Linked DNA regions of Homo sapiens: region 1 is linked to region 2. The links come from fine-mapping of genetic effects on gene expression. Tissue or cell type: whole blood. Region 2 holds a variant in brackets; the other region holds the start of a gene. All regions are shown on one strand. Distances are between the middles of the regions.

Region 1 (2,689 bases), 120 kb before region 2:
ATAATCTGGCCCTTGCCTATTTGTCTTACATCATCTTACCTGCAAAGCTCCAGCTACACAGTTTTTTTTTTTTCTTTTTTGAATATGCTAAGCTAATGTCTATGGACCTTTGCAGTAACTCCAAATGTTTCCCCTTAGAGCTCTTGGAATGACTGGGTCTTTTTTGTTAGTCACTGAGTCTGTCATTCTTTATCATCACAATATTTTAAATTTCTACAGGCCACCTTTCCAATATGGACATTTTTTTTCCTTGCTTATGTATTTATTTCTTATTGTCTGTTTTCACTCTTCAGCCAGACTGTCAGCTTCATGAAAGCAAGGGCTTGTTATCTTGTTCTGTGCACTAACCTCCACTTCTGGAACAGTGCCTAGCAAATAATAGGCACTCAATGAATCTTTGTTAAAGTAACTAATTTTTATCTTCAAAGAGCTGACATATCTGGTTGTATATCAAATATAATAAATGAAAAGTTAAATACATATGGCAACAAACAGAAGAGATGTATATGTAAGTACTACATAAAGCATTGATTTTGTTAAAAATGAAAAGGTATTTAGGTTCTAAAAGCCAGTTTTGACTAAGGGAGGGCGGAAGTCACGGAGGTGGGGGGAAGAGAGAGGAGGGAGAGCAGAACTAGTAGACAGAGGATTTGTGCACAAACTTGAGTGCTTGCACAAGTTTTGCAAAGGAGACCTAGCTTGCCCAAAGCTGAAATTCTCCAAAACTGGAGCTTGCAGGGAAATGACAGTGGGCTGAAATATTTTGAGGTACAACTTTCCACTCCCAAAGAGGCCTGCTATCCCCTCCCACTCCCCACTCCGGCCTTTCCTTGGCTTGGCTTTTTTTAAAGAAAAAAAAAAAAAAAACTAAGCAGGTTTCTTTAGAAGAAAAAGAGGAAGTTCATAAAGAGTGTTTGTGGTAGTAGGGGTGGGGTGGAGTGAGGAGTGAGGAGGCCGTCACCTCCCATGGAATCCTTAGTCTTGGGTTTGTGAACCACGCATGGGGGCTGTTTTAGCACAGCTGCTAAAATAGGCCAGGCCTGCAGGACATACGGGTATGTTTAGTTTCTAGATAACTTTTGTTTTTCTAAACTCCTTCTTCCCTTTCCCAAATCTGGCAAGCGTTAGTCATCTTCAACTCGGCAGGAACCCACAAGTGTGCATGTGTGGCTCGGAGGCTTCAGCTGGGGCCCCGCCCTCGTCCCCAGGCGCACACTGACACACGCAGCCCAGACCCGGCCCGAGCGGGCTCCTGCCCTCGGCGTGGCTTCTCTCCAGCCGGGAGTCCCAGGGCCAGCTAGCCTCCTCCCCTAAAGGGGACGGCCTGTCAGCGCAGTGCCAGAGTCCAGCACCGGGAGGAAAGTTTCGGAGTGCGGAGGGAGTTGGGGCCGCCGGAGGAGAAGAGTCTCCACTCCTAGTTTGTTCTGCCGTCGCCGCGTCCCAGGGACCCCTTGTCCCGAAGCGCACGGCAGCGGGGGGGACTTCAGCCCTCCAGGCGGGGTGGGTTCCAGGTCCGGGTCCGAGGCGGGCGCTGGAGGCTCGGCCCCAGGCCGGAGAGGAACTCCTTTCGCGAGCTGTCGCCGTGGGCCCGCATTGTCTGCAGGAACTCTCCGGAATCGGGAGGGGGAGGACTGGATCGCGCTTCCACTGGGATTCGTCAAGAGTTCCGGCGGCAGCTGCGGCGGTGGCGGAGACTCCCTTTGTCCTCTCAGGACCTCCCTCTCTCCCTCCCTGTCAGCTGGTGGGTCCCGCTGCCGCAGGCGCCGGCGTCTCAGCTGCTCGCCGCCCCCCACCCCAGAGTGCGTGCCGGGTGACTCCCGCCACCTTTGCGACCCTCCTGAGCTTAGGGGACTGCGAGCGGGAGGGAGTCTCAGGCCCCCGGCCGCAGGATGGTGGCGGAGCGGTCCCCGGCCCGCAGCCCCGGGAGCTGGCTGTTCCCCGGGCTGTGGCTGTTGGTGCTCAGCGGTCCCGGGGGGCTGCTGCGCGCCCAGGAGCAGCCCTCCTGCAGAAGAGCCTTTGATCTCTACTTCGTCCTGGACAAGTGAGTGTGCGAGGGAGGTCCAGGGTCTCCTGGTGAGGGCGGCACTGGATCAGCTGGGGCTGAGGCTGAGATGCGTGTGCGCACCCCGGGGAGTGGTGTTGGAAACCCGCGGAGGGGTGCCCTGTTGCTGTCTTCTTTCAAAGGGCAAGCGCGTTCGGATCTGTGTGGGCGGAGATCAGCCGGGTCGGGGGTAGTGATTGGAGCCCCGGGCTACTTGGCTCTTTGGGGAGTTGGGGTATTCACTGTTTGCCAGTCTTTTGGCCTCTTGGGAAATGGGAGTGTGGCCTCTTGCGGGCCACGCTCCATCGGCCACAGAGTCCTTACCCACCTCCTCGACCCTGCTCGTACGCAGGCTAAAGTTTGCCTGGTTTTATCCTAATCATAGCGCTTTCATTGGAGCCAGGAAAAGCCTAGGGTTAACATGCCCAATGTGGTTTGCATTTCCTGCGAAGAAAGGCTTTTGTGTTTACTCTGAAGAGCTGGGTTCCACTCTAAACAATTAGGCAGGTATTTACCCACCCCAGAAAACGGGCTGACTTCTTCTTCTTCTTTTTTTTTTTGACGGAGTCTTGCTCTGGGACTGACTTCTTTAACTCTGGGTACCACCAAAGTTTCAGCTACAGATACCCTTACTTAGCTTGAAAAAGA
Region 2 (2,689 bases):
AATATTAAAATTGATTGTCATTTCTAACCTGTAAAATCAAAGCAAAAGGAGTTCTATCTGGAGGCTAAGATTATGACACAATCCCAAATTATATATTTCAATTATCAAAGCTCTCAGATTTACTATGGAAAAGCCATCATTTTTAGTTTAGGATACTGTTGGCACAGTCATAATTTATTATTTATAATTCCCTCTTAAAATCTAGTTTTCAGAATCTTTCATCATTTTAGACTTCCGTTAAATTTACTGTGAATTTACTGTTTATTTCCCAGATCATTCTGAGAGCTTGAGCTCTTATTTTGATCTATGGAGCAACTGATTTCACTAATCAAATTTATTCTTTGATGTATCTGAAAATAGTGTGCCCAAAATCATCTTACAAAAATTCAATCCTGAAATGGTTTTTAAAGTCTTAATATCTCTTCAGGTACGTTAGTGAAAACTGAGGCAAATGGGCTGCCAGCTATTTTTTTGATGAGAAATCCTTAGTGTGTGAGTACTGGGAACTGAGGGTTGAGCATCTGGAGGTCGGCCTCCTCTTCAGTCTGCCTGCCTTCAACACTAGGTCCTGTGGTAGACACCTCAGTCCTTACATTCCCTATTTCACATGGAGGGGCCAAGGGTTCCCCATGATACAGCTGTCATAGAACTTGTTGTTTAGATGAGGCATCTTGAAAGACTTTCATGTTGTGGCATGCTAATATTATATAATATTTTGCTGAGAAAGAAAGTTTTATCAAATTATAAGAAATAGGAGGTTTCCTTTATTCCTAGGGCATCATTCTTTGTACTCTCTGTTGTATAAAATAATAATATTACTATTATTAATAATAATAAGATGGTTTTTATAACTGAAGGCATAAGAAAAATACCCATGTAAACTACATTTTAAGGCTTTTTATACTCTTTAGAGCAAACAGTTTTTCTAATCATTTATAAACATTTACTGCTTTGTTTCTGAAATCTTAGAAATAATAAACAAGTGAAATTTTGGATTAATTAATAGTATTAATGAAAATACAACATATTCTCTGTAAGATTACAGATGAATATTAAAACTTAAATTATAAGTGCTATAATTTTTCTTTTTGGCATGTTGGAGCATTTAACACATGAGCATTTAAACACATTTCTGACTTTTCTAAATTTTTGGTGAAAATATTTTCTAGTAAGATTAGACAAA[G/A]GAAAATGAGCTACAAGTTATCAACAGGTTCTCGAGAAAAAATTTTTTTCTTTAAAAAATCTAGTGAATACTAGATAATCCCTACCTGCTAGGAATTTATTACAGTCTAGATGTAGTGGGGGATAAAGAAAAGCCTCAAAAATTATAACCCAAAGCAGAGCAAGCAAAATGCAATTAACAAATAAAAACAGAAGATAAAACCAGTTGTATAGTCAAGATGGATTCTAATTAGAATCTAATCTAATTAGAATTATATATATGATATATATTTATATATAAACAGCAAATAGTTTATATATACCTATTATATATATTTGAAAACTCCACAATTATAATTCCACATCAAATAATTTTGGTGGTTTAAAAAAATTTGCTAGAATTAGGACATGATAGGCATAAAATAAAATTAGCCATTTTTTCCTGAGTACCCACTATTTTCAGGCAGTCTTTGAAACCCCAAAATATTTAATACATAGTTATCAACAAGTTTGTAATCTACTCAAAAGGGCAACAATCCACATATACAACGTAAAATAATGAAATATTTAAACATCAATTCAAGGAAGTAACAGAAGAGATTACACAAAAGTGTTGCCTAATTAATTTCTAAATGAATTGTCTGGACATTAATTGCTGTTTGAGTTATTAAGGAAGAATACTTCAGACCAAGAGGTAAGGTGAGGTTTTATAGAAGAGAGAGTTGAGTTAATCTTGAAGGATTTGTAGAGGTAGAGAAAGTAGGAACATTTACATTTGTTCTGGGACAGTGATTCAATTATTTTCTTTAGCAACTTTTGAGCTATATGTGGGGAAATAATAGAGAATAAATCTAAGTCCCGTTTGGTTGTTCTTTTTGTTGTTTTTTTTTTTTTGTTGTTGTTGTTTTTTGAGATAGAGTCTCTCTCTGTCCCCCAGGCTGGAATGCAGTGGCGCTATCTTGGCTCACTGCAACCTCCGCCTCCCAGGTTCAAGCAATTCTCCTGCCTCAGCCTCCTGAGTAGCTGGGATTACAGCTGCCACCATGCCTGGCTAATTTTTGTATTTTTAGTAGAGACAGGGTTTCACCATGTTGGCTAGGCTGGTCTCAAACTCCTGACCATGAGTAATCCCCTTCCCTCAGCCTCCCAAAGTGCTGGGATTATAGGCATGAGCCACCACGCCCAGCAGAGTCCTGTTCAGTTCTGGAGAATGTAGTATATTAGACTAGCACTTAGCTATGAATGTCCAACAAATATTTATTGCTGTTTCTCAACTTTAAAATTTTAAATAAATCTGTGTCCCATCAAACAAAAATATTTTATTGAATTTTGTTTTCTAATTTTGTACTAAGACTTCATGAAAACAAGTTGGGTTTTTTGTTTGTTTTATTTTGTTTTCCTACAAGTATTATCTTGGTGACAGGCAGTATACTCTTAGAAGGACTGAAGGTAAGAGCAGAAGGCAACTGGGCTAATGCAGGAACCACCTTGTTAGGGCCCCCATGAGACAGTAGCACTCCATCAGAAT

What was found. PIP is the estimated chance that this variant, and not a neighbour inherited with it, causes the effect.
Region 1: it holds the start of ANTXR2, and the variant in region 2 is fine-mapped to the expression of ANTXR2 in whole blood (INTERVAL, PIP 0.95).

What each region holds. Positions count from the first base shown.
Region 1 is chr4:80,071,761-80,074,449 of GRCh38, reverse strand. ANTXR2 (ANTXR cell adhesion molecule 2) reads left to right here and starts at 1,221. Exons shown (of 17, transcript NM_058172.6): 1 at 1,221-2,041. The coding sequence starts at 1,890. RefSeq lists enhancers at 872-1,151, 1,482-1,591 and a silencer at 1,772-1,931.
Region 2 is chr4:79,950,958-79,953,646 of GRCh38, reverse strand. All of the region lies in intron 16 of ANTXR2 (ANTXR cell adhesion molecule 2), which reads left to right. Among named protein-coding and RNA genes, the nearest start is that of ANTXR2, 120 kb to the left of the region's middle. The variant G/A (reference allele first, on the strand shown) is at 1,184.